Homo sapiens: one gene and its partners. The protein of the gene in region 2 interacts with the protein of the main gene of each other region in a biochemical or structural test. Each region holds a gene or a part of one and is shown on either strand. Other genes may lie near its edges.

Region 1 (7,021 bases), on a different chromosome or scaffold from region 2:
TCATCTCTACAAAAGTAAAAAACTAGCCAGACATAGTGGTGTGTTCCTATGGTCCTAGCTACTTGAGAGGCTCAGGTGGGACGATTGCTCCAACCCAGGAGGTCGAGGCTGCAGTGAGCTGTGATCACTCCACTGCACTCCAGCAGAGCAACAGAGCAAGACCCTATCTCTCAAAAAAAAAAAAAAAAAAAAAAAGAGGGGTGGGCAGGGATAAGGGTGTCTCCATGGGGGGTTGTTGTGGGAAGCAGTAAAGAGCCCCCATTGCATGCAATTAGCTTTTGTCATCATGACTGTTCCCAAAGGCAGCCATCCCTTCTCCCAGCATAGACAAGTGTCATGGGAGAGAGGAGGCTCCAAGATCGCATTGTGGACCCAGCTAAATCGATGGAAACGTAAAGAGAGCAGACCTTTCCCACAGGTGGTCTACAAGAGGGGCAGGACTGACCACCTCGTGGGGACACCCGCTCGGCTTCACTGAACGTGATATAACACCTACGGGGAATCAGGGAAAATGTGGGCAACCTGCTGAGCCCCCGCCCGCCGCAAACACTCAGCAAACGGAATCTGTTGCCATCGATTCCCAGCCACCACCCGTATGCTCCCTGTGAAGCCAGGCTCGGGATGAATTATGGGAAGAAATAACAGGGACAGAGATAAAAAAAAGCCACCAAGGCCCACCAGATGGCCTCAGGCCACAGGACAGGAAGCCAACGGGCATTTGGCCCCCAGATGCTGAGTAGGGGATACTGGCTGTGTCTCTGGCATTAACTGGATTGAACACAGTGGTTTGCCATCTCTGCCCAGCTGGGTGGCTTTTTCCAGAGGGATCCTTGCAGATCCATGAGAGGACCCCAAGCGGAACCAAAGGCATTAAGGGCCTGCCACTCCCTCTCAGGCAGCTTCAGTCTCGGTTCTGGAGTGAGGCCCAGAGAAAGGGACTGCGAGGAAAAATGCCAAGGCTCCTTGATGAGGGCTGCTCTCCTCTGACCTTCCAGGACATCCTGGAAGTTCCCAGCAGCCAAAAGGAATCCTCCTTGCCCTCTGAAAAGGCTACTCAGGAAGCTGACCTGGCACATCCTGAGAAGGCAGCTCAAAACCAGAACTCATGCCCTGGGGCTGAGGTGTAGTGGCAAGGGGTAGAAGCCAGGAGACGAGGAAACAGGCATGTAGCCTTCAGGAGCAGCAAGAAACTCCAGAGGCTTCTGGAAGCTTCCAGAAGCTTCCAGAAGCCTCTGGAGCCAGAGTCCAAAGGGATCTTCACCCTTAGCCAGTCCCTTTCCTGTGCCATTGAGACTGACAATTGTGGTCTGGACTACACTTTGGGCTCAGTCTCATGGGAAGAAGAACAGTCTTCTCTGAGACACCAAGCTGAAGGGAACATGGAATGTGTCACAGAAGGCCAATACATGGTGAAACCCCATCTCTACTAAAAATAAAAAAATCAGCCAGGCATGGTGGTACATACTTGTAATCCCAGCTACTTGGGAGGCTGAGGCAGGAGAATCACTTGAACTTGAGAGGTGGAGGTTGCAGTGAGCTGGGATCGTGCCACTGCACTCCAGCCTGGGCAACACAGTGAGACTCCATCTCAAAAAAAAAAAAAAAAGGAATCTCTTTCCTTCCTCTTGGGCATGTAAGACAGCTCATGGGTGAGAAATTAGAGAGATCTTAGCCACCTGTTCACACCCCAGCACACAGGGAATCACCTGGGAGCTTTTAAAGCACACCAATGACAGTTCAACCCCTACGGATCAGGAGTTTTAAAAGCCTCTGTGATTCTATTGCACAGCCAAGGCTGAAAACCAGCTCAGGACTCATCAATGGACCCATCTGAGCCCCAGGTGAGGGAATCAGCACTATGGGAATCACTGAGGCACGGCCATGGCTAAGATGGTGACTGCTGAAATCTAAGAGCCTGGGTTTGAGCCCCACCTCTGCCACTTTGTAGCTGTGTGCTTTTGGGCAAGTTACTTCCCACCTCTGAGCCAGGCTCCGCACCTGTAAAATGGGGATGATACATCTTCATAGGAACCTTTCCAAGGCATGAAACAAAGCTGAAGTGTCCAGCACAGTCATAAACAGTAAGCACCACGCAACAAGAAGCCTCAACCACAGGGTGGAGACATGCTCTGGAACGTGACCATGGCTCTCTGCCCAAACACGCTCATGGGGGCTAACGGCAGGGCAAAACCCGCCCAGAGTCTTGCTACCAAGTCATGAATCCGCACATCATAAGTTGCCACCACCCCAGCATCCCCAGGAGAGGACTGGGCAAGGAGCCCTTGGCCCACTGCCCGAGGGCCGCCCTGTGAGGGGGCTGCATCGTTCCTCCTACCACATCCAGCCCCACCTACCTTCTCAGGTTTATGGACCAAAATCATCACGGCGTCCCCAGGGAGCTTCTCAGAAAGGCAGAAACTCAGGGCCCCCATCCCAGGGCTAGTCGAGGGCAAGAGCCTCTGCCTGGGCTGAAGGGACCCAGGAAACTGAGCCCAGGCCTCCTCTGCCAATCCATCCTGTGTGGTGGGGACAGGCAGGGGGCAGCTCCCTCTTCCTCAGAGTGACTCAGGCTGCAGCTGATCCAAATCTTGGCCCTCGAGACCACGCTGAGGTCACCCTCCTGGCAGCCAAAATCACTGAGATGAACCCAGGGACATTTTCATCCAGCTGCCAACATCATCTCGACCTTGGTGGCGGCCGACTCCCTTGGAGCAGATTCTGCTGCCCTGGCTGGCCTTGGCCTCCCAGGGAGGTTCTCAGAGGCCAGCTCCCAAAGCAGAAGTGTGTCGCCTACATGTGGGGCAGCGCTGTGGAGTGGGGCAAGCCTGACACATGCTCAAGGAGAGACGGGGAAGACTGGGATGGAAGATGCCAGGTCCCAGCTCCACAGCAGAAACAGGGCAAACAGCACAACCCCTACCCCAAATATCCTCACCTTCACCTGGAACCAAAGTCTGCACCAATGGAGACAGGAGCAAGTCCAGCTCCTGGAAGCCAGGCCCCAGCTGGCCTGGCCTCAGGCCTGGGGTTCAGAAAATGAGGATAAGACTCCGATCCTTTCGCAGCCCCCTCTCACCCCAGCAAGGCCTCTGGAGCCAAGGCCACTGTCCCCAGACCTGCCTCTGAGCCCCCACTCGCTCCACAGCCCGCCAAGGGCGGCTCCAACATGTCTTTCCAGCTGTCTGGGGCCGCGCTTTAAGCAGAGCCGCAGGGCTATGGAAGGCCTCCAGCTCGGCTCATTATCGGAATTTAATCTGGATTCCGAGAGATCAAGAGGAGTCAGTGGAAAGTGACTCCCACAAGGGGAGAGACGCTGAGGCTGACCCAAAGCCGGCTAATCCTCGGCACCCCCGGGGCTTTCCTGGAGCTCAGGCACAGCTCGTCAGATGTCCCAGCCCTGCACAGCTGGGCAGCTGGCGGCACAGAGACAGAGGCAGCCACATGGCGGGGACAGCAGGGCAGGCTCTGGGCTCCCCCGGGCTGAGGTCTGCAGGAGGCCTTCAGCTGGAAGAAGCTGTGCGGGCCCAGGTTGGGGACATGCAACCAGGTTGGGGACATGCAAAGAAAAAGCCTATCTCTGAACAGGCGAGCTGGAGGAAGCGTGGGGGATTTGAAGAGCATTTGCAAGCTCAGGGCTTTGTTCCTACTGGAAGATTGCAGAATTAGGGGAATTGGCTCGGTGGACCTACATGGGAAGGCAGTGCCACAGCCACCACCCAGGGCTCTTGTCTTCCTAAAGAGGTCTTGCTCCACTTCCTGCTGTGATGATGATGATACTAACGCAGGTGACCATTTATTGAGCACTTCCTGTGTGTAAGACACTGTTGTAAGTATGTCACCCCCTTTCATCCACAGCACAACTCTGGGAGGGAGATTCAATTATTATCCCCATTTTACAGAGGGAAAAACTGAGGCTCTGAGAGATGACTCTTTCCCAAGGCCACATGGGTAGCTGGTGGCAGGATTTGAATCCATGCTCTTAATAGCTGGGGAATTACATCATAGGGGCATCTTGGTTCTAGGTTGAAAAACAAAACAACCTGTCCAGAAAAATGAATAAATAATATATTTTTTAAATTTAACCATTTAACTTCTGAAGAATGGAGGCTTTGCTGCAGGAGGCACAGGAAGAACATGTAGAAACCTAAAGAAAGCAGCTCCGTCTTGCCCTCCACTGCTTCTCACCCTATTCCCTTCCTTGCTCAATGCTCCCACCTGCCATGTCCTCTCCTCTGCTGGAACGTGAGCTTCCAGAGGGCAGGGACTCGTGTCTGGTTCGTTCTGGTCGATGCCCTCAGGCATGGCATGCAGCAGGTACCTGTGCTGAGGAGGGACTCAGTCACTCAGCAGCCCAGAAGCCCCCAGGAGCAGGACCCCAGCACTAGAATGGGCACCCCCAGCCCAAGTTGCCTGTTGCCGGCAGCCTGGCAGGGAGGACGCCTGGAACGCCCATCCCTCCTCCAAACACAGTGCTCAGGCCTGCTGCCCAACCCTGCAGCCCTCAGGATCCACCCCATGGATCTCAGGCAAGACAGCAGAGGCACCACAGACCATGATGGGACCAGGTGCCCACAAAGCCAGCAGGAAGGACCAAGAGCTGCCGGAGCTGAGTGGAGAATCCAGATAACAGCCTGGACACAGAGGCTGTGGTTTCATCCTAAGCAAGAAGCTCCCTGGCTGCTGGGAGTAGATGTCGATGTCACCTCCCAGGAGAGCTGCTCAGCAGTGTCTACCAAAGCCACCCATGTGTGGGCCCTCTGACCCCACAATTCTATCTCTAGAACTTTATCTGACTGATAGACATGAACACGTATGTCAGCGAGGGTACTTGCCCTGCGGCACCATCCATCATAGAACAGAGGAGCCAGCGTGCACACGTGAAACACAGCACAACCCAAGCCGTGGAACAGTGAGGTGACTCAGAGGATGAGGGCACCCCGTGTGAACCCCTGGAAAGGGCTGCCAAGGTTCATCATCCAACGATGAAAGCCAGAGGCAGGAGTGAGTGCACTGTGGGGTTCCACAGGTGAAAACAGCAACACAGATTCCTTCGCTGATTTCAGGAGACTCAAGAAACTGGCATCAGGGACCACCTCAGCAGGGGCTGGAAGCCTTCATTTTCACTGTGGTTCCTCTTCTTTCCTTTTGATTTTATACCATGAACATGTCTTGCCTACTCAAAAACTTTTTTTTTTTTTTTTTTTTGAGAAAGAGTCTCACTCTGTCACCCAGGCTGGAGTGCGGTGGCACCATCTCGGCTCACTGCAACCTTCTCCTCCTGGGTTCAAGCAATTCTCCTGCCTCAGCCTCCCAAGTAGCTGGGATTACAGGCGCCCGCCACCATGCCTGGCTAATTTTTCTATTTTTAGTAGAGACGGGGTTTCACCGTGTTGGCCAGGCTGGTCTCAAACTCCTGACCTCAAATGATCCACCTGCCTTGGCCTTCCAAAGTGCTGGGATTACAGGCGTGAGCTACCACACCCGGCCTAAAAACAAATTTTGGAAAGAAATATCTTTCATAAGCATGGGCTCCAGCTTTGCAAACCTGGGCTCACGTCCTAATGTGGCCACATTCTCTCTGGGTAGCCTCATTCTTTGGCTTCAGGTCACTTTAGTTCTCCTCATTTTACAGATAAGCCACCACTTCTGAAGGCTACTGTGAATATGAAACAAGATATCAAGTGCAAAACACTCTGGAAACGCTCAAGAACAGTTTTGTTTTCTTGGTACTTAGATGACCATCCCCACCCCCACCCCCCACCAGCACCAAATAGCAGTGCTTGGCAAACGTAGCTGTGATGGTTCTTCTGTCCCTGTCTATGGTAACAAGTCCCCTTTCTAGCTGAAGATGCTAAGCCTGCACATCACAAGGAGGTGCCCACACCACCTTTCTTCCATCAATTTCCCTGCCCAGTGGGGACGGTAGATGTCTGACAGCCTGCGGGGTCCAGCAACCCAGCCACTGAGTAATAGGACCTTGGTCATTTCTGCCTCGGGACTGTCTGAATAGAATGCACCTGCTAAATGTCCCAGCCCTTTTTCTTAGCCTCCTTACCTCTCACAAGACCTTGAAATTAATGGATCTCGATAAATTAAAGACTTTCAACACAAACGTTTGGTTTCTGACCTAGTGATTCTTGGAAGGCTAAGAGTTCTCTGTTTTTTTTGGTTTGGGTTTTTTTCTTCCCCTAACATTTTATTTTAGATGGCCACCTTAATTGGTTGCCTGACATCGTGCACTGGGTTTCAGAGTGAGAAACGGGAGAGAGGTAGCCCTTCAAAAATGTTTCTTCCCCTTCCCCTTTTCTTCTATGTCCCTTAGCACCCAGCCAGATCTAGACTGCCTATAAAAACCCACAAGGCACCACGCATCCCTGGGCTCCCTGGCCTTCTACTATTCCTGAATTTGTTGTCGGTCATGGTTTTAAGGAAGTGACATACACCATACACCTTCTTTAGAAGGGATAATCTGGTACAGGGCCTGGCACGTGGTTGTGCCAATCTGACCCATCCTCTGGCCCTCACCACCTTCTTCCTCTGCCCCCAGAGGAAACTCAGCACCTCTCCCAGATACCCGTATAGCACCCACCTGCCCAAGTGCTCCTGGAGCACCTGATAAACGCTGATCCGGAACGTCTCATTGTCGAAGCGTTCCCGGATGTAGTCCTTGTAGATCCGGAATTCGGCTGCCGTGACAGCTTCCCCTTCTGGGATCTTGGAAAGATCAAACCGGAACTCTCGATGGTGGTAGCGTGGGTGGAAGAATTCCTTGTCATGTTCCACTGGAAGAGGAAGAGAACACACACCAACACCGACAGCTCATTAGTGTCTGGGTTTCACTCTCTGGCTCTGAGTCCAAGCATCTTGCCTAAGCTAGATGGAGGCATGCCCATTGCCAGTGACCCCAGTGACAACTGCTCCTTCCTCACCAACACACTGTAGACTGGAGGGTCACAGGCTCAGACCCCATGGTCCCCATGGTCATCCTGAACGACAAGAGCATGATTCTGCATCCAACCTG
Region 2 (7,303 bases):
TCTTTAATATTATTAATGTGTGTGATGACATGCTAAGACTCTTTCAATCCTAAGTCTATGATCTGCTATTACACTATTCTTAAGTATTTTCCTTGAGCTACTGCATCCACAAAGAATCAGTATCACAAGTTAGAGGTAATTTGGAAAAGAACCAATCGTCCTACAAGGATTTCTTGAGTATCTATCACATACCAGGTACTGTGCTGGGCATCTGAAATTCAGAGAAAAAGAAACAAGGGACACTATCTCACCTCAATGAGATAACAGTCCAACAAGGAAGCGCCAAGCAAGTAACCATACAGCACAGAGGTGGACACCGAAAGAGGGGCACTCAGAAGCCTGAGAGGCAGAGGCAGTGGTGAGGGGGCTTCTGAAAATCAGGAAGGCTCTGCTAGGTTGGAGTAGGTGACAACTGACTTTAGATTTGGATGATAAATACGATTTGAGTGCTCAGAAAGAGCTGGAGGAGGTGCTATATGTGGCAAAAGATAAGCACATTTTAAACTGCCTTATACTTTTAAACAAATAATAATAAATCAGCATTTACTGTAATAAAAATACTTTATCAGGCCATCTCACACAGTTCCCAAAGCTTATGAGGAAAAATTTAAGTCAATTTCCTTTTAATAAATATTATTTAACGACTGGAACATTTAGAGAAACATACATAAGCAGGCCGTGGCAGCACGTCACTCAGGGACAATAATCTAACAGGGAATTTCAGACAACCTAGCCTAGACTAAATGCTGGGCAGCACCTGGCAGACAAGGTGGCAAAGCCCCTATAAATAGTGATGATTCACTAACATGACATAAATCAAGATTTTAACTCACCAAAAACTAACATTTTGATTTAAAAACACAAATCAGTGCCATTAAAATTCATCAGCGGCCCCTAGCACATGAGTAATGAGATCATATCAACTTATATCATGTAACTAAAAGGAAAAGGTGGTTTTCTAAATGGTAATTCAGATTGGACAAATAACACACTGTATCAAGTTTTGTAGCTCTAGGCCATATTTTGCTAAACACAAAGGTACATTATGCATGACTAAAGAAAACAGTGAAAATCAGAGCAATTAATTTCCCAGCTATGTTTCCCATAAAAAGACATCACTACTATGATCTGCTTATAACACAAACTTTTTTGCATTGCACAATGATCTAAGTGTGTAATAACTTACATATTTCACTAAGATGTAACATCCTTCAAAACATCCTTATAATGAAAGTTTTCCAAAAACATTATTGATCACCGGCATGTCTCATGTTTTAAAATTACTGACGAATCCTTTACTATTTTCTTTACAGCTAGAAATAATTCTTCTTGATCACTAGAGTGTAAAGGGGTATAAAGTACAAAGACTGAATATTTTCTTAAATACTAACATCCCAGTTGACACAGGACATTTCCCATAACTTGCCCAAAACAATAATTAGGAGAGTTGTCACTGGAATCCTAAAAATATATGTAAGAAAACAGAGATTCGTTGGCATCAATTTAGCACAGCAAGAGATTTCCATTAAGTGCTTTTTCAAATTATTTGCAAACACTTTTTAGCTGAACCCTCTCATTTCCAGTGGAGCCTTTTATGTTTCTTTGCAGAACTCAAGAACCTTTTCTCAGGTGGCTCTGCTTTGCTGCAGGTAAGTTTGGTATTAACACATTTTCTTTATCTGTTGGAGGTAGTGAAACGGCTCTCTTCCTCCGTTGTCTTTCACTGGCACCTTTGTGGCCGCTCGTAGTCACTGACCTCACCTTGCTGGAAAGGTGGCTAAGAAAAGAGCAGTTTCTAATAACTCAAGGGAACTGCAGCGTTTCCATTCAGAACAAACAGCAGGACCCAGCTGGAGGGGTGCAGCTCTAAAGAAGTAAGACCCGCACCACAGCGGACAACTTCCAGAGGCTCTTCTCCAACACCGCCAAACACAGGCGGAAACACGGAGCCTGGACAGAAAGAGGGACGAGCAGAGAGATGGGCGCAGAGAGCAAGAGACAGGGGAGCCAGGAAGACCGGGAGCGAAAGCCTCTTGAGAGAGAGAGAGAGACCAAAAGATTGTGCGAAAGTGACAGAGGGAAGAGGATGAAGGGACAGAGGAGGGACACACTGGGAGAGCCAGAGCAGGCGGTGGGGAGAGGGAGACAGACGCACGGAAGGAAAGAGAGACCGGGGGGAGAGGCAAAGGATAGCAATAAGGAGAGGAAGGGAGAAAGGAAGAAAAGGGAGAGAATGAAAGACCCAGAACTTGAGAGAGAGGCATAGAGAGAGAGAAGCAGGAGAGAGAGGAGAAGAGACAGGCAACTGAAGCAGAGACGGAGCCCAGTCCAAGGCGCCGGGACCAGCCCGCTGCGCACTTTCCCCCACGGCAAGGCTGGGTCTCGGGAGGCGTCCGGGGCAGGTGGGTGCCTGCGGGTCCCGCCTGGGCTGGCCCTGGGCCCCCGCCCCGCCGGGCTCCCTCCCATTTCCCGGATTCCGCGACTGCCCTCAGCTCGCCCTCCCGCCCCATCCCTCCGCTCGCAGGTCCGACTCCCTGCCTTGGGGCGTCCCTACAGCCCGAAGCACGTGTCCCGCCCGCCGCCGCCGCTGCCCCGACTCCTCGCCTGCGCAGGCACGAGGCCTCGGGGTCCCGGCAGAGCCGCCCGCGCACAAAGCCGAGGCGGCCACCGCCTGACCCCCTCCCCGCCGCCGCCACCGCCCCACGGCCGCGCAGCCCGCCCTCGCTCTCGCCCTCTCCCTCGCGCGCTCCGTCCTGCCTAGGGCGACCGCCGCCCAGCTCCGCACCCAGCCGCTACCCGTCCCGCGCCGCCCCTCGCTCTGCCCGGCTCTCGCCGGCTCGGCCGCCTCCCGCGCGCTCGGGAACTCGGCCACCCGCAGGGGACGGGGCCCCGCCGCGCGCGCCTTACCCGCGGCTGCGCTCCCGGCTCCCGCGTCCTCAGCGCCGCGGTCTCCGCACTGCCCGGCGTCCCGCGAGGCCCCGCCGACTCCGCGCCCCGCGCCCGGCTGCGCCGTCAACTTCTGGCCGCCGCGGCCGCTCCGCCGCCGCCGCCGCCGCCACCGCGGGACTTTTTTTTTTTTTTTTTTTTTTTTTCCCTCTCGCTCCTCGGCTGCCTCTGGAATTTTTTTTTTTCACTTGCCCTCTCCAGCTCCCACTAGTGATTGGAGACTGAGAGCCAAGTACTTAGCGGAGGGATTACACTTCTCAACGCACTTGGAGCGGCCCCAGCGCCGCCGCCTGTGTGCGGAGTGCGGAGCCGACTTGGGGAGCGGCGGGGTGCGGGCCGGAGGCAGCCCGGGTACAGGGGTGCGCTTCCCAAGCCCCGTCCGCTGCTCAGAGCATCCCCAAGATTTCCCTCATGGGTCCTGTCCTGGTTGTTTAAGAAGGTTTCCAGAAAACCTCCTGGTTTGAAGAACAAAGATTCGTGGAATTATTGTACCTTGAGAGCTGGAAAGGGCTCGCAGAGATGATATAATGTCGTGGATTTCAACTTTTCGGGGCCATAGACACTTTTCAGAAATTGATAAAACGTTGACACACCTTGTAAAAAATGAACACATTAAAATTAAGCCTGCAGTTTGAGGTGGGGGTTTTAAGAATCTTGAAATATATACAGTTGAGCGTCCAAGGGAAATGAAATATTTCCCTTCTACATATTTTTTGAAACCGTTAAACGAAAACAACCACCAAAAAATTAAAAATAAAAAAATAAAACCCAAAAGAGAAAACCCATTCCATTTGTATTTGATGACAGTTTACAGTTAGTCGTGTTTCTTTTGGAAAAGTATGTAACGTCTTATACTTTGTGGTCTCCTTGCTAAGTCTTTAAGTGTTGAAACACTTTCTAAGTGGGTAAATATAAAGTAAGCTAGTTCACAGTCAGAAATTTGGGGAGAATAGTTAACCTCTTTAAAATCAGCCATTTTGCCAACTCTATTTCCCAGGGAGATATCTCGTGACTTCCAAATACTCTTTTCCTTTCAATACCTTTCAGCTTCCCACTCTCCAGCATTACTTATTTTCTCCTTCTGTAAAATTTTTTTCCTCCAAAATATTGACAAACAGTCTCTGGTCACCACCAAGTGTGTGATCTAAGTCATTTTTTTTTTTAACAGTTTTTCACCCTGAAGTAACTTTCTTCCAATTTTCTTCATATCTATTTCTATATTCAATTCTTAGCCTACTATTTTCTTTCAACTACTCCCTTTTCTTAAATTGTTTCTATTAAATCTTTTTTAAACATTAAATGTAATCTTTTTGCACTTATCAATAAAAAATTCATTTGTGTATCAATTTATTTTATGCAGCTTGCACTTAAAGCAGGCGGTGCCCCCAGTGTTTATTGAGTGTATGAAGATGTGGTCATGTTTTTTCTATAAAAGCAATGTTAGAGTCTCCACAAAGGTCTTTTTGCCCCATGATATATCTGCATTGTGATTTCTAATGCCAAACTGGAAGAAGAAAGGTATCTGAAAGAAAATTTCCAAAACAAGTGAAATTAGTCATTGACATCATCTGACCTTCCTTATTCAACCACTGTTCCAGTCCCCAGTACCAGTACTCATCCTCTTGCCCCAAGAATTCCAAGATAAAATCCATTCATTTTACTCTCATCCCAATTCTTCTCTGATACCCTCACTCCCACCCCTTCCCTTTTCCACCTCCTTTCTTTCAAAACAATAAAGCATATGACTACCTAAATTACCTTCTACCTGGTCCTCAATCCAATTTTTCATCATCTCCATCCTCATATTAACTAAGTGTTTTGTGGGGAGAAGGGGGCTTGAAGACACGGAAATTATAACTTCTACACCATTAAAATAAAAGACAAAGCAAGGAATTATGAGCTATTATGTAATTAACTAAAAATAATAAATTATCGAAAATGAAATGTGAGTTTAGAAATATGAGTTTTAAATATTGAAAATAAGATACCAAATTATAATTCATTACAGAGCTTATGATTGTATACATAGAAAAGCTTAGAGAATTTACTGGAAATCCATAGAACTAAAAATGTAATGTGTTGATCATTGTCAATATCTCATCAACATTAAGCAAGTTTAAAGAGGAAAGAAACCTGATTGAATCTATCCTTTCTACTGTGTGAATTACTGATAATTTGTATTTGACAGCTGTATAATCTCCCTTAGAATTGGAGCACTCATAAACTGCAGTGAAATAAAGCAGACATTATGCAGAATGTTTTGGAGCTAGTGGTATTGTCACCTGTATCTTTTCAGAAGTTGCACTAAGGATTATCTTTCCTTGGCTTAACTCCTCCATTCAGCAAATATCCTTCAGAGAATCTGCTGGGTATAAGATACTGATTCAGGGAATACAGGCATCTCTGGATAGAGAAGACACAGATTCCACTTCAATCAACTTGCAGACAAGGAGACAGATTTTTTTAAATACCTTGTTTAAATATATTTTTTAAAATTCCAAATCAGAGAACAAAGGAAATTCCTGTAGGTCTTTGGGATGAAAAAAAAAAAGCACTCCAGGTGGGAGAAAATGGGGTACAGGGGAAACTGTGTTTGAGGTGGGCCTTAGATGGTAACATTTCTGTAAGCAGGAATGGGGAGCCTTGGAAAGAAGCTATTCAAAAATCAACATTTTTGAGTGCCTATGACAAACCAAGTCCTGGTATTTGAGAGGCAAACTCTGTCCATTCCTTCTTGAAACTCATAATACAGAAGAAACAAGATACTTAAAAAATATATAGAACTTTCTATGAGAAGTGCATTAATGCATGAACACACAATTTTTGGAGCATAGAAAAATGAACTATTCTGCCTAGAAATCTCAGGAAAACCTTCCTAGAGTAGTCACATTTCATAAGGGTCCTGAAGGATCTTTAGAGATCAAAGCGGGGCTAGAAAGAGAATAAACATCCTAAGCAAGGAGAACCCTATGAAAAAGCATGGCGTGTTTAGAGAACAGCTGGTATCTCAGTGCTGCTATCCAAGTGATGAGGAGAAGGTGCAGCAGATGACTCTCTTAGGCTAAGCAGGGTTCAGAAATAACCTTCTCAAACATACTAATGAAATTGATTTTTTCCTTATTAGGTAATGGAGAAGCACTGGAGATTTGTAAGCCACGGAGTCAAATGGTGGACTGGGATTTTCAGGAGATCATTTAGAGGTACCTGGAGAGGGAGAAATGAAAGCACAAAACTAATTAAGGGTCTGTCATTGAAAGAAGGAATACTTGAACCAAGACAATGGTGTAACTACCAAGACAGCAGACTCAAAAGACACTTCCTATATTGCTAACTGTAGCCTTGGATTTTGGTGCCTTTAAAGGCCATAGGAGCCAGATGTGGTGGCATATGCATGTAGTCACAGATACTCAGAGGCAGAGGTGGGAGGATCCCTTGAGTTCAAGACCAGCCTGAGCAACATAGTGAGACCCCCACATGCCCACACCATATCTAAATAAATAAATAAGTAAATAGAGACCACTGGGGGGAGAAGAATAGAAAGGAGGGGCTTCATTGGGTGCATGACAAATTTTAGCAAAAGCAAGATTTTTTTCCCCTCTGCTTCTACATAAGGAAACCAGGGCAGTGTATATAGGACTCTCAAACACTTGCAGGCATATTTCCCATTAAGAAAGACATTTGCCCAGGCCCACTGGAATTGAACTATTTGGGGAATTTATAAGTAGAGAAATAGGACAGACCTGGGGACACAGCTTGCTTCTATGCTGTCAGCCTCCCCTTCTCCTTCCTCTTCATGGATATCCTCACTCCTACCACTTTCCTTTTCCACCCCCCTCTTCTCTCAAAACTGAAGGTAAAGGATTTGACCACCATTAATATATTGTCATAAATCAAGGCATACAATGCTAAGTAACATTCTAGAACATGTGCTTTTAAACTATTTCTCTCTAATTGTGGAATAAAAGTCTGCCTCTTTTCAGGTATGGTATTTTAGGAATCAGGTGAAGGAAATATTTTTCAGTGTAAGAAAGAGATCTTTTTCTTGCTCTTCTGTTCCTACTGCTGTGGTTGTCTTATTGTCCACTGCTACATGTTGACTCTACATATACAAAATAAGTGGTTAAGCCTCTCAACAAACAGAGTATTTAAATTTTTGCTTGTTAATATAATAACTTGGTGAAATGTGTACCTTCCATAATAAAAGCCACATTTATGGAGTGGTTACCATGATACAGGCACACTACTAAGTAGCTCACATTTATTATCAACCTGAGGCCTCATAATAAGGTATTATTTTATTTCCATTTTACAACTGAGGAAAGCAAGGCACAGAGAAGTTAGATAACATTCCCACGGC
Region 3 (7,333 bases), on a different chromosome or scaffold from region 2:
GGCTAACTTCTCCTCCTCCTCCTCACAAGTTTTACATGTAATTCGACATGTGATCTAAAAGGGGAAACACTGAAACTGAAAATCCTCTGCTGGTTGAATGAAAAATCCTTAAGGAAACCTCAAATTTTCTACAGGAAGTGATTAAAAGTTTCCTTTATAAAAACTTATTTTGTGAGTTGCATGGCTCCGTTCACATTTTGTCGCAGGGCAAGATTGGAGGCTTTAATATCAGTTTCTCGTTGAAATAATCTGGGTCTTCAAGTTCTCACTAATACAATATCCACCTAGTGGACCCTGGTCGCTGTCACATGCCACAGCGAGTAAACTAAACTAATGCACACGCCTCTTCCAGTTTCCCGTCTGAAGATCCGAAACCTCCACTCTGAAATTAAACACCGGGATCTGCTGTTTTACAAACCTCTTCCCACCCTTACCTTTATTCTTCCCCCTCTCTCTGAACGCCCCAGTAAGGTGTCTCATTTAATTATCTGTCCAAATTCCAGACCACGGTATTGTATGCTCAGTTTTCACCGGACGCTGCTAATGCTTCGGTTCTAAGGAAAACCAGCCCGCTAAACACAGATCTTTGGCAACCCTTAACAGTCCAAAGCTAGGGGTCTTGCTCCTAAATCTGCACTGGTTGGGCCCAAGTTCCTTCTCTGCTTCAAGTAAGAACCTTGCTTTGCAGAACCACTTCTCTGCTCTTTCTCCTCCTCCCTCCAAGCTCACTTTATTTTCCACATAAAGCTCACCAGTCTTCTGGGGTGATGACTACATATCCCTAGTTTGACAAATTCCATATATAGATTTAAAGTATAAATAAAACAGATTAAAAGCCCATTTTGACCCTATTAGCTTCAGACCTTGTACAGAAAAGGAAGACTGAATACAAGTAAAATGCTGCTTAAATGTTTATGAGAGCCTATTTTCAATGACCTAAAAACAGCCTAATAAAATTTTGACAGGTAACTGGGAAAGTTCTAACTACCTTTTTTTTTTAATTGGAGCCACATTTTAAGCAAGGAGAATGGACTTTTGTACCACTGTATTAAAACTATATTTCTGTCGTTCATAAAGTTTCTTCCTGTGGCATGCAAAAGGCCAGAAAGGGGACTGGTATTTTGAAACTGTGGAACAATGCCCTTCTGTTTCTGTCCCCTTCTCGTTACTGTATGTAGTGATTAAACAAAAATGTCTGCTTTAGTCAAGATGGCTACAGGAGAGACTGCTGGCTTCTTTTAAAGCTTTTGAAGTCCGCAGCCGTCAGAAATCTCTGATCCCCTAATTATATCATTATCAGGCACATAGTTTCGGTATCTGTGACTTCATGTCAGCCTCAGTCCCTCCCTGTTCTGCCCGCCTTTGATAGGGCCAGGAGGCTCCCCTCTGCAAGCCACAAGGGCTGTTATTTAGGGTTAATTACACCCTTCCTTCCAAAATAAATAAATACTGTAGCACATCATCCTCGCTGGGCTAGCTTATGCTTTAACCTCATGCCTGCTACATAGCAATTAAAGAGAAGTAGGGGGCTGCAAAGACTAAACTGCTTCCTACTTAAAAAAATTATCTGTTCACAGAACAGTAGGTAGATTTCACAGCAGGGAGGTGAGGAGAACCTTGAAATTCGGAGACAGTTCGGGTTATTTCTTTCTAAAAGGTGAAAGCCTGCAGAGGAAAGAAGAAACTGACCCGCTGCCTTTTTTTTTTTTTTGGTCCTGTTTGTAAAATATGAGGTGAGTGGCAGTGAGACGCTGACAGAGCCTACTCCTCCCGGCTGCTGAAAAGCAACACAACACACACTTCTGCACACCTCGGACACCTAAACTCTCAGGGAGACCCACACACTCGCTCGCACACAGAGAGATGTACGCAGAGACACACTCACACAGAGACTCAGATGCACATTCAGAGATACAAAGACACTTAGAGACAGACACAGAAATGCATTCAGAAAGACACACTCAAGATCAGAGATACAGAGACTCACACATTCAGAGACACAAAGACTCAGAAAGAGACACAGAAATGCATTCAGAGATACATTCAAAGAGACACAGAGATACGCTGAGTGATACAGAGGTTCAGACACACTTTCAGAAACACAACGACACTCAGAGACACAAAAATGCATTTAGGGATACTGAGACTCAGAGACACACTCACAGAAATACACCCTGAGGCACTCACACAGACACGCTGAGGGCACGCGGCAGCTACAGGCCAGGATCTGCGATTCCTCCCGGCCGCCCGAGCCCCCAGGGTGCGGAAGCGGCGGCGTCGAGGCCGAGACTCCGGCCCCGCTCCCCGCTGGGCTGCAAACGCGCCGCTCCCCGCAGGCAGAGCCAGGAGGACCCTCTGATCAGCGCCTGCCCTTAGATCGGAGTCCGCATCCACGCGCCAGGCCACCGCCGCGACTTCTAAGAACACAGCAACTTGTCGCGACCTGCGGCTCCGGCGCAGGAGGGAGCCTCGCCTGCCGCTAACAAAGCCTCTGCAGCCGGCTCCAAAGCCCCGCGGCGAGGACGGGACCCCGGGCCCCGTGCGCCCCCGGCACCCACCTTTGGTGAGCAGCACGGCCATGGCGCAGAGCTCCAGCTGCAGCCAGATGAAGATGTAGCTGGAGTGGCGATCCATTGACGCCCCGCACGGCCGCGGCGCCCCCGCCGGCTTCCGGAGCCCCGGCTCGGCGGCAGCCTACGACCCCCGGAGCGCGCAGGGCATGGGCCCTGCCCGGAGCGGCGGGCGCCGTCAGCGGCGGGGCTGGGTTTCGGGCCGCTGCCGGAGCATGGAGCGCGGCTACAGGGCGCGCCCAGGAGCCCAGAAAAGTTTCCCGGTCCCCCGTCGGCGGCCACTGGCTCCCTTGCCCCGCTCGACTCTAGGGACGCACGCTAGCCCCGGGTCGGGAGTGGGCTCCCGGCCTTCAGTCCCCGCTAGCGGCCGTTCTCAGCGAAGAGAGTAGGGTCTCCACAGCACGCAAGGGTATCCGCCGCAGCTCCCGCCCGCGCCAGCCCAGGTCTCTCCGGCTCCGCGCCGTAAATAGCGCCCCGCGCCGGGAGCCGGCCTGCACCGCCCCGCCTCGCCCCGCCCCACGGCGTCCGATTGGCCGCCGGGCTCCTGTCAATCCGCCCCGCAGCGGGGGGCGGGCCCAGACGCGAGCGCTGGGGGACCTGCCCGGCGGCTCCGAGCGGCGCCGGCGTCTGGGGCGCCCGGCTGGGGCGCCCGGCTGGTGCGCTGCCGTCTCCCGCGCTCCCCCTTGCGGAGGCCTGCGCGTCAGTGACCTTCGCGAGGCGCCGGGGGAGCCCAGCCCCGGGACCGGCTCGGGAACCCGCCTCCGAGACCCTGACGGCTCAGCCTCGGGTGGTCAGCGTTCCCCAGCGCGGGGCTTCTTTTGGGTGCCCCCCGAAACACGCAGGGGGTCCGTGTGGTCGTCCTCCCCGGCCGCACTGCGTTTTCTGGAACCCCCAGGGGCGAGTGACAATGCCCCGGCCTGTGCAGGTGGCGGAGGAGGGTTCGGGTGGGAGCCCGGGGGAGGCGGCCCAGCGCTGGGGTCTGCATTCAGCCTTCGCCCCCCACCCCCTCAGCGTGTCCGCCTCGAGCTGCCCGCCATGGGATCAATAAAGCCCAGACAGACTGACTGTTGATCCGTTAGGAGCCGCTAGGTTCTCCCGGGTACGCGGGACGAGTAGCGGGCTAGAGACACTTAACGAAAATTAGCAAATCCAAAAGCACCCGGCGCCAACGAGACGACACTGGCCGAGACTGACACTCAATTAACCACCCCCCAAACAATGGCTGGCAAACACGCCGGCTGACCCTGATCAATATCAGCCCCGCAGTGATCTCCTCCTTGAGATGCTAATTCATTTATTAGGGATCGCGGGGCTGCCCTTCCCAAGGTACTCAAGGTGGTCTTGCTGTAGTTTTGTTTCCCCCTCCGCTTTGGAAGGAATTAAGGTTAAAACTCATTATCTGAGGGAATGTTCTTTTATCCTCTCCCTCCAAAACCTGAGATGAACAAAAGTCGACCATTTGCAAAATTCTTCTTGAGAATCTGCCAGAGCTTCCCTACCGGATATGTCAAAAGGGGGTGGGGGGTGGGGAAGGAAAGAAAGAGAAGCACATTTCATGCTAAGGTGAGAATTATAAAGACAAATCCTTTAGGACTAGAGTGCAGACATGAGCTTTGAGACTAAGAAAAATGTACATATGTCTTGAGGACTGAAAGTCAAGGCGAACATATCTCAAACGCCTAACCTTTTAAAGTTGTTGAAAGTCTGCAGAGCTGCAGGATGTAGTTAATGAAATTGTCTTTGAAAAATAATGTTTATGTGCAGAAAAATAAAATAATTTCATAAACTGATGCTCAGACCATTACTTCTCTAGATCAAAATTGCATCTAAAAGGAGAGAAGGAGAAATCCAGTAGAAGTTTTAAAAGAAAATTAAACTGGTTAGGGCACCAGGTAAACAGCAGGTTTCTCAGAAAAGTTTCTCAAGGGGCGTGCTGACAAGGCAGTCCTGGGGCCGAGTTTGATTAGAACTTCCTGGCTACTAGAACCTTGACAAGTTAACAATTGTAAGGGTTTTATGCAGACAAGACTTTTTTTTTTTTTTTTTTTTTTTTTGAGACGAGTCTGGCACTGTCGCCCAGGCTGGAGTACAGTGGCGCGATCTCGGCTCACTGCAACCTTCCGCCTCCCGGGTTCAAGCCATTCTCCTGCCTCAGCCTCCTGAGTAGCTGGGATTACAGGCACCTGTCTCCACGCCTGGCTAATTTCTGTATTTTTATAGAGACGAGGTTTCGCCATGTTGGTCAGGCTGCTCTCGAACTTCCGACCTCGTGATCCGCCCGCCTCGGCCTCCCAAAGTGCTGGGATTTACAGGCGTGAGCCACCGCGCCCAGAGGACAATACTTTTTATGTAATGATTACACTCTCTTTTAGAGTCAATTATTAGCTAAAAGGAAACTTTCAGGGTATGTTAGTTCAACCTGGCCTCCCACCGTAGGCGAGGCTTGCAATGTCTGGGGGTATAAAGATGTCAGAAACTAGATAGTAAATCTCAAAACAATGGAGCTGGACAATAATGGAGATTTATGTGCATGATGTTACAATGCCTAAAAGAAAGAGGTTAACTAGTCTAGGAAGGTAAAGAGAGCCGGTAAAGTCTAGAAGCAATGACATTAAGGATTGGAAGAAGACCATTACAAGCACAGAGGACCACAGGACTTAGGCATGAAATATGATTGTGTAGGTGAGTAGGAGTGGTAAGCAGCGAACAGGTAGTTGGGATGACAAGCAAGTCTTTGTGATTGCAGCATAAAATGTGAAGAAGTGAACAGAGACGTATCAGAAATGAACTATACTTCCCTTTGATACAGATAAATATTTAATGGAAGAGGTCTGGGGAATGTGTTGGTGAAAGTTGCATTCTAGTAGACACTTTCTGAGTGTCTCCCAGCCCAAGTCAGAGAATGTCCCTTTTCCCGGAGTGGGCGTTGGCAACCTGATTAGGAGACTCTGATCTCCTAATCTCTGGCCATAGCTAGTCACATGACCCAGGTTAGGTCAGTTAGATTCTCTCTTCTGTGTCTTTGAGCAGACATGCTGCTCAGTCCCTTGAGGTCATTTCACGGGAGACATAAAAATTTTGCTTTGGGGCAGCTGTAGTCCACCTGTCTGCAGAGGAAGAAAAATAATGAAGATATGCAAAGTGGCAAATACATAAATCCAAATGGATTTCCAGGCACTCAGCGTCACTTCTTGTCCTTAGGTTAATTCAGTAACCTTAATAAAGTCCCCTTTTTACTTAAGGTTCTTTTCCTTGCAACCCAAAGAAACCAAACTAAGATATTTGTATTTTATTGAATTAATGTTGACTTTGAGCACTCCAGGTTGTATATATTTTTTTGTTCCAAGTCCAATTCTGAATAAGAACTTGGGATCCATTTTTTAGACAATGATTTCAACTATTTTGTTTTTATTATTAATGGGCAAACTTTCTAAATGACCAGAAATTAAAGAGAAACAAGTCCGCACTTTATCTAATGGTTCTGGGGAAGACATGGACTTTTCAACTAAATGAATCAGAGTGTTTGAATCAATGTAGAATATCAAAATCAGTTTAGGGATAATGTGTCAATCATAAGGCCATATCAATAGTTGAGAGAATAGGCAACAATTTTAATTCAATTTAACATTCTTAAGGAAAATTGCTTCTCTAGAGAATTTTACTTATGCTTTGCACATAATTCAGTTATTACTTTCCTACATGTAGGTTGATAAGTAGAGGGAAAAAAAATAGTACAATCTACTGTCCTTTTGAAGTTTAAAGCAAGAAATGAAATCAACGACCAAAATTCTTTTTACATCTACAAAGGGATTCCGAAAATACCTAGGAACAAGCTCTCTATACCCAAGAACAGAAAACTGATTCTAGACCTAACTGAAACCGTTAAACAGTAGAATAGTTTTTTATTACCTTCAAACAGCATTCAAGATATAATTTATCCATGGGAGATATATATGTATATATATAGGCGCGAGCCACCATGCCCGACTAATTTTTTAATTTTTTTGTAGAGATGGTGGTCTCCCTATGTTACTGAGGCTGGTCTCAGAATTCCTGGGCTCAAGCAATCCTCCTGCCTGAGCCTCCAAAAGTGCTGGGATTATAGGTGTGAGCCACCATGCTGGCCGTATAGATGTTTTAAAGATTTTAAATGATGTCTTTGAAATTATAGGCTAAACATGTAACTAAATGGCACTAAATTGTGAATGGGAGAGTAGAGAGTTACTTGCTTTTTTTTGCTTTTTTAGAGACGAAGGCCTCCCTCTGTTACTCAGGCTGGAGTACAGCGCTGCAATCATAGCTCACTGTAGCCTCGAACCACTGGCCCCAGCCTCCCAAGTAGCTAAGGTGCTCCCCACTGCATGGGGCTAATTTCTATACTTTTTGTTGAGACAGAGTCTCCTTATGTTGCCCAGGCTGGTCCCAAACTTCTAGCCTCGAGTGACCCTCCCACCTTAGCCTCCCAAGTAGCTGGGATTACAGGTGTGAGCTTGACTATCTTATCAGAGAGTTATTTGTGTTTAAGGGATTCATAGCAGAATAGGAGCTTATTTGTTAGGTGACCAGATAGAACAAAGGAAGATTATACAATCTGAGAAAAGCGCATCAGAAGTTCTTCCCTTAATACCAAGGATAAGAACAAGAATTCTGTTCATTGATGACCTCACTTAGGGTGTACTCTCTTCATAACCTGTGTCCATAAATCTCGTTAAAATGCATTAAATATTTGAAGATATGCACGTTTGGCTGGCATTTTATTTCAT
Region 4 (7,608 bases), on a different chromosome or scaffold from region 2:
ATCTCAGCTCACTGCAAGCTCCGCCTCCTGGGTTCACGCCATTCTCCTGCCTCAGCCTTCCGAGTAGCTGGGACTACAGGCGCCCGCCACCATGCCTGGCTAATTTTTTATATTTTTAGTTAAGATGGGTTTTCACCATGTTAGCCAGGATGGTCTCGATCTCCTGACCTCGGTATCCACCTGCCTTGGCCTCCCAAAGTGCTGGGATTACAGGTGTGAGCCACCGCACCTGGCTTGGATGTTAATATTGAAGGGTTTTTATAGAAAGGACCATATTCCAGAAAGTATCAAGGCAGCAATTTAAAACATAGGGAACTGAAATAGCATTGGATTTTCTTTTTGTCATGAGAAAATATCAGCATCCAGTATTATTTACTTTGAGTGAGGCATATCAAAGGTTGGCAACAATATTAAATGTTTAGAGAAGGAACAACTTGTGCAATTGGGTTAAAAGTTCATCTTTAGATCAGAATAAAGAAAATGAGTTTATGTTTTAGCTTGAGGGACAGGAAAAAAAATTCTTAAAAGTTAGAGGTGTTAGGAATCCGCAAAACAGACGGAGAATGCTTTTTGGACATGTCATTCAGTCTCAGCCTATTAGTAAAAACTAATTGCTCAGAGTAGGTATGATTTTGACAGTGAGTAGTTATCTTGGCACAGCTATGTTCATGGGTCAGATCTATATAGACAAAGCATAATGAGTGGACATTGGAGATTAAGCAATTTGACTGTGATTTTAACTACCAGGATATATTGTCTCTGTATTCCAGAGCCTGAGAAAGACCTGTGAGGACCCTGTTCAAGCTCCACATTTTACAATGAGGAAACTTGGACCCAGCAGAGATAATGAGCTCCTTTCTCAAGATCATAACCTTTTTCTCAGGAAAGGTCACATAAAAGTCTTGCCCTAAGGCGGGCTTATATAGTAACGTCAGGAAGAAACAAACTTCTAGGTCTTGATTTTGTTTTGTTATCTAAGAACTTGGGAAGATATCCTGAAATTCCTGGTAATAGCATGCTGCCAGGATGGAGCAGCAGCTGGTGCCTTGGCCTGGGGAAAGCTTCCAGGATAAGCCTCGGGGATCCATCCACAATACCCCTCACTTGCCCAGGGAGAGGAGACAGACTGACATGGTTTGGACTTGGGGTCCACCACTTTCTAGCTTTGTGACCTTGAGCAACTTACATAACGTCTCTAAACTTCAGATTCTCATCTGTAGGACAGGGATTTTATAAGGGTTGTTGTAAGGGCTAGAGATATATAGGGCAAATATATAAGATATGATAAATATTAATAAGAGGAAAACTAAATTTCTAGCCAATTTCAGAGACCACTTCCAATTCCAATTCGAATTCGAATTCCAATTCCAATTGATCTATCTTACTGCTTCTCAAAACTTAGCAGTGATTCTGGGAATTCCTTCCGTAGCTTCACCAGACACCTAATTGGCCAAGAAGGTTTGAAGACCTGATGTGGTTCTTAATTGGGGATGGGGAATTAAGGGCTACTGTATCTATAGGATTATCTTTTCACTTGCATAGACCTATTTGGTGTGTTCAGGGCATAGTGATACTATAATTGCCATATTTAACAGTTTATAAAGTTCAAGCCCAGCATATTCTTTGCCTGTTTAATGATGTCTTGGTATCAGCCTTTTAATGGTACTTATCAGCATAGAAAATGGAAACAAAATAACTTTTAAAACAGTAGCTCTCAAGCTTTAGTGTGCTCAGAATGACCAGAGAACCTTGTGAAATATACAGATTTCTGGGTCCAGATCTGGGGCAGGACCAGGAAGTCTGCATTTCATCTGCACCCCCACCCTACTCTGAGGCTTATAGTCCTGAGAACATGCTTTGAAAAAGGCTGTCCCAAGGGCTCGCAGACAGGCTATTGACCAGCTACTCTTTCTTGATGTTCTCCAGGAAAAACCCAACAAAGGAATGCCTTTCATTGAGTAGTAGCAGCATAGGAGCAATAGTTGCTCCTGAATTATGGTGGGTTTCCCCTCTTCATCAATGTGCTTTAAGGGTACAGTTTCATTTGGTCTATCTACCATGTTCTATAAAAACATGAAAATTCACAGGTAAGTTTGAGATACAGAAAATAACTAAACTGATTCTTCTCACGAACTCTGATCACTAGGCTGTGGTTGATTTAGCTCTCTAACCAACAAGTAATTTGTTCTTTGGCATGAGTAAGGGGGGAAAAGGAGGAGTGGGTAAAAGCAGCTGATAACAGATGGCTTGCGCCCATCTAAAATGTGGGGAGAGAAATAAAGCTGTCCCAAGAGAACTAAAGCTGAGTTCTCTCGTCATATATCTGAAGATTCATATCAGGGGTCTAAACATGGTATGTCGGGTAGCTTAATTGGAAACTCCTGGACTGTGAGTGTCACAGACTCATGGATGGGCCAATCAGTGGCCACTTTAGTGTCTGGGCTGCAGCAAAATGAGACAATAGCTGTCATTCAAAAACCTTTGGAATTAAAAAAACCCCGAAATGACATTGGTGCTTTAAAGTAAAATAAAGTCCTGCCTTTAAGTCCAGCATATCACTGTTGTTTCTGAGTTTAAATATTAAGAACCACATTTCGTTAATGATTAAAACAACAGTGATTGATTTAGGGGCTCAGTGAGCATTTAATCTGTCCTGACTTCAGGTACCATGCTAAAGGAGCACAATGCCTGATGCTGCAGGAGAAACATTAGGTAACTATTTAATGGAGTTTTAATTTTCTGTTATTATTTTTAATAATTAATTGTGATTTTGACTATTTGGAAGCTACAGGTATATTTTGTCCTCCTTTTGGGGTGGTGTTATTGCCCTGCCCTGTTTTAATCAGTGGTTCTTAGAGAAAGTGAACTCAGGAGTGACTTAAAATGAAGGAAGACGGACTTTGGCTAAAATTACAATTAAATAATCAAATCATTTTCAAATATAAAGGGAGCATGCAGATGATCTGGCCCAATCCTTTCATTCTGCAGATGAGAAAACTGAGACTCATAGGAATGAAAAGACTTGCCCAAAGCCATACAGCTTGTTTCTGTTGTTTGGTGCATTAGGCCAAAAGACCTAGGCCTAATAGATGGAAAAGATGGCAGGATGTCTTGGCCTTGCTCTGACAGTTGCTTCTCTGATCTCAGATATTTCCCACCCTTTGTAATCTGTGTTCCACACAGGAAGTAGTTCTTGTTTTTTAAATATCGAAGGTGTATAAACGTAAAGTTTTTATAGATGAGCCACCCAGGGCCAATATCTGTTTAAGTAAAGACCTAAATGCTTTGCAGAGACAGTAAAGTGTCATGTCTGTCCCAGGGAAAGAAATCCAGGACAGGAAATGCTCAGTCTTCCAGCACTCCTCTGGCTACCTGGAGCTCAGGCTATGAGCCTCAACCCCTCCCTGAAGCATTAGCTCTGGAGCAGAGGCTGTGATTTACTTCAGAGATCTGGGCAAGTCCCTTTAACCTGGTAGTCCTGCCTTTCCTTGTTTGTAAAACAGAGAGATGAGGCTGATAGCTCCCTCACAGCTCCATCAGAGGCAGTGTGTGAAATTAGTTCCTGTTTGGGAAGGTTTAAAAGCCACCACATTCCACCTCCCTGCTAATATGATTACTAAAATGTTTTTATATGAAAGGGCCAATTCCTCATCTCCCCTCTTCCTTTAAAAACAGACCAAGGGGCATCTTTTCTTGTCTCCCTGTGGCCTAAAAGGTTACTGCTTCTGTGGTTATCTCCTTGGAAAGACAGAGTGTCAGGACTCTTAGGTACACCAAAAATGAACAAAAAAATCAACAACAACCATAACACCAACAAAAATAACTGCTGTGTCGGTTCTTAAGACGGCTTCTGAGCTAGAAACAGATTTTTCTAACTGTAAAAAACGTGGCCCCAGCCTGTCTGCAGGCCACCTCTGTCTTTAGGCCTTGGGGGGAGGAGGGAAGTGAGCTCATTTACTGGGGTCTACCTCAGGGTCATCACCAAGGTGTTCTACAAAACGCACTTTAAGAATGTTTTGGAAGGAAATTCACCTTTTAACAGCCCAAGAGGTATCTCTCTCTGGCACACAGTTCTGCACACAGCCTGTTTCTCAACGTTTGGAAATCTTTTAACAGTTTATGGAAGGCCACCTTTTAAACCGATCCAACAGCTCCTTTCTCCATAACCTGATTTTAGAGGTGTTTCATTATCTCTAATTACTCAGGGTAAATGGTGATTACTCAGTGTTTTAATCATCAGTTTGGGCAGCAGTTACACTAAACTCAGGGAAGCCCAGACTCCCATGGGTATTTTTGGAAGGTACGGCGACTAGTCGGTGCATGCTTTCTAGTACCTCCGCACGTGGTCCCCAGGTGAGCCCCAGCCGCTTCCCAGAGCTGGAGGCAGCGGCGTCCCAGCTCCGACGGCAGCTGCGGACTCGGGCGCTGCCTGGGCTTCCGGGACCCGGGCCTGCTAGGCGAGGTCGGGCGGCTGGAGGGGAGGATGTGGGCGGGGCTCCCATCCCCAGAAAGGGAGGCGAGCGAGGGAGGAGGGAAGGAGGGAGGGGCCGCCGGGGAAGAGGAGGAGGAAGGAAAGAAAGAAAGCGAGGGAGGGAAAGAGGAGGAAGGAAGATGCGAGAAGGCAGAGGAGGAGGGAGGGAGGGAAGGAGCGCGGAGCCCGGCCCGGAAGCTAGGTGAGTGTGGCATCCGAGCTGAGGGACGCGAGCCTGAGACGCCGCTGCTGCTCCGGCTGAGTATCTAGCTTGTCTCCCCGATGGGATTCCCGTCCAAGCTATCTCGAGCCTGCAGCGCCACAGTCCCCGGCCCTCGCCCAGGTTCACTGCAACCGTTCAGAGGTCCCCAGGAGCTGCTGCTGGCGAGCCCGCTACTGCAGGGACCTATGGTGAGCAAGGCTACCTGGTGAGGGGAGACAGGCAGAGGGGGTCTAGGAGCCTCCTTGGGGGGAAGAAGCTGGTCACAGGCTGTGACCGAGGCAAAAGGTGGCCTAATTATTTTCCAATAGTGGTGCTGGAGGTGGGGATGCTGGCGCTGAAAGACCTTTAAATATCGGCTACTGCCCCTGCCCAGGCCTTCTCTGTCCAGCAGTCCCTGGGAGATTCTCACCTTTGGGAAGTGCGGGGCAGGAGAGCAGAAACAAGAGAAGCCCTTGGTAGGGGGGTCGTTGGGAAAAACTGTGGGGTCTTGGGCTGAACGCGTTGCCCACGGGCTGGAGGTTGCGATCCCCGGACGGAAAGCGCGGGAGGAGGAAGGAGAGAACCGGCTCTGAGGTCCAGAGAGAGTGAGGGGGCAGAGCGACGGCGAGATGGGGAGAGAACACCTAGCTGGAGCAGGTTCTGCGGTAGAGAGCGCAGTCCTGCTGGCCTCTGGAGAGTGCGCGCCGCTCCGGAGGCTGCGTCGAGGGGAGTGTCACCCAATCTGGCCCCCAGCTGGCGGGGCGCCCTGAGAGCTTGCGAACTGCAGTTGCAGGACGCGCCTTCTCCACGAGCTATTTTCGTCGACTTGCGGAACCCAAGGAACCTCGCCTCTATCATTTCACGGTGTAGGGTCCCTAGAGACGACAGCCAAGATCCCAGGGGCTCCCAGGACGCTTGTTCCTGCGGTGTCGTGTCCTATGGGGAGTTCCTGGCGGGACGAAAGGCGGACGCGCGGCTCTTCCTGGCCCTCCAGGCCCGGAACCGACGGGAAAGGTTCCCGTGATTCCCGAGTCCCTGCAGGCTTCTTCCAGCGGGAGTTGGTCCGGGGGCCTTAGAGGCCTCCAAGCACTGCTTTGGAGGATGGTTTCCAAGGATCGCGGTTTGTGAGTTGAAGGCTTTGTGAGAGGTTAAACCCCCAAAAGATACATACTTGGTAAACTGAGGCTACCTGTAAACACATTTCGGCATTAGGAGAAGATTCGAGTAGGGAAGTGAAGGACAACCACCCCGAGTTACATTCCTTTCCCCCAATAAAAAGCTCTGGGGATGAAAGTTCTTTTGGCTTTTATCTTTTCGATTTAAAAATTTGAGAAGAAAAATGTGACTAGAGATGAATCCTGGTGAATCCGAAATTGAAACACAACTCCCCCTTCCCCTTCCTATCCTCTCGGTTTTAGAACCGCGCTCTCCCGCCCCAGGAGATTCCTTGGGGCCGAGGGTTTTCCGGGGAACCCGGGCGCCCGCCCCTTCTACTGTCCCTTTGCCCCGCGGGCACAGCTTGCCTCCGTCTGCTTTCTCTACTTCTGGACCTCTCCTCGCCGGGCTTTTTAAAGGGCTTCTGCGTCTCAAAACAAAACAAAAAAACCCTTTGCTCTTCCCAACCCTTTCGCAGCCCGCCCCAGCGGTGGCGCGGGACCAGCAAAGGCGAAAGCCGCGCGGCTCTTGCCGGGCGCGGACGGTCGCGCAGGGGCGCCCGCGGCCTCCGCACCCGGACCTGAGGTGTTGGTCGACTCCGGGCATCCACGGTCGGGAGGGAGGGCTGAGCTGTTCGATCCTTTACTTTTCTTCCTCAAAGTCTACCTGCCAATGCCCCTAAGAAGAAAACCAAGTATGTGCGTGGAGAGTGGGGCGGCAGGCAACCCGAGTTCTTGAGCTCCGGAGCGACCCAAAGCAGCAACTGGGAACAGCCTCAGGAAAGGGAGGTCGGGTGGAGTGGGCTTTGGGGCAGGAGTCATGGGGCCCGGGCCCCGGGGACGACCTGGCGCTCCCGGCCCTGCTGAACGCTGAGTTGCGCCTAGTCGGGTTTTCGAAGAGGCCCTTGCGCAGAGCGACCCACGCGCGCGGCAGCATCTTCGATTAGTCAGGACATCCCAGTAACTGCTTGAACTGTAGGTAGGTAAAATTCTTGAAGGAGTATTTGCTGCGTGCGACTCTGCTGCTGGTGCAACGGAGGAAGGGGGTGGGGGAAGGAAGTGGCGGGGGAAGGAGTGTGGTGGTGGTTTAAAAAATAAGGGAAGCCGAGGCGAGAGAGACGCAGACGCAGAGGTCGAGCGCAGGCCGAAAGCTGTTCACCGTTTTCTCGACTCCGGGGAACATGGTGGGATTTCCTTTCTGCGCCGGGTCGGGAGTTGTAAAACCTCGGCCACATTAAGATCTGAAAACTGTGATGCGTCCTTTCTGCAGCGACGCCTCTTTCTGAATCTGCCCGGAGCTTCGAGCCCCGGCGTCTGTCCCTCAGCCTGGCATGGCTTCTTCGGGGGTCTGCTTTGCATGGGGAGAGGGGCCACGCAGCGGCGGACTAGGTTTGGGGATTCTCGGTAATGGACCCGGAGCAATGACTAACAGCCGCTCCCTCTCACTTTCCCACAGCGATCACCCTCTAACACCCTCCCTCCCATTCCCGGCCCCGCGCGTGACAAGGTCGGCTGCTTTCAGCCGGGAGCTAGATCGGTGGCCCGGCTCTTCGGAGCCTTAGCAGGCGTTCGCCAAGGGGTGACTGGCTGTCATTGGGAGCAATATTTGGCCTTGAGGAGACCCTGGGGAGGAAGTGGCGGGGAGCTCGTGTTTGCTTGTGTGTGTGTGGGGGGGTGTGTGTGTACACGCGCGTGGGCAGGGTCCCTCTGCGCTTTCCTTTTTAAGTGCCTCTCGGTGGTGAGGCTTTGGGCGGGTGAGACTTTCCCGACCTCGCTCCCGG

What was found.
Region 1: the proteins of BMPR1B (region 2) and BMP7 form a complex in vitro, tested with the Homo sapiens proteins (2 studies listed by BioGRID).
Region 3: the proteins of BMPR1B (region 2) and BAMBI form a complex in vitro, tested with the Homo sapiens proteins (one study listed by BioGRID).
Region 4: the proteins of BMPR1B (region 2) and BMP4 form a complex in vitro, tested with the Homo sapiens proteins (one study listed by BioGRID).

The regions. Positions count from the first base shown.
Region 1 is NC_000020.11:57,221,640-57,228,660, forward strand, and holds part of BMP7 (bone morphogenetic protein 7 preproprotein), read right to left. Parts: intron 6,783-7,021; coding exon 6,590-6,782; intron 1-6,589. UniProt on the Homo sapiens protein: Growth factor of the TGF-beta superfamily that plays important role in various biological processes, including embryogenesis, hematopoiesis, neurogenesis and skeletal morphogenesis.
Region 2 is NC_000004.12:94,753,673-94,760,975, reverse strand, and holds the start of BMPR1B (bone morphogenetic protein receptor type-1B isoform b precursor), read right to left. Parts: upstream 3,022-7,303; 5' UTR 2,908-3,021; intron 1-2,907. UniProt on the Homo sapiens protein: On ligand binding, forms a receptor complex consisting of two type II and two type I transmembrane serine/threonine kinases.
Region 3 is NC_000010.11:28,673,199-28,680,531, reverse strand, and holds the start of BAMBI (BMP and activin membrane-bound inhibitor homolog precursor), read right to left. Parts: upstream 3,012-7,333; 5' UTR 2,635-3,011; coding exon 2,559-2,634; intron 1-2,558. UniProt on the Homo sapiens protein: Negatively regulates TGF-beta signaling.
Region 4 is NC_000014.9:53,953,824-53,961,431, reverse strand, and holds the start of BMP4 (bone morphogenetic protein 4 isoform a preproprotein), read left to right. Parts: upstream 1-4,606; 5' UTR 4,607-4,611; coding exon of another isoform or gene 4,612-4,673; 5' UTR 4,674-4,882; intron 4,883-5,103; coding exon of another isoform or gene 5,104-5,531; exon of another isoform or gene 5,532-7,250; intron 7,251-7,608. Other genes in the region: uncharacterized protein LOC124903317, read right to left, coding at 5,104-5,531.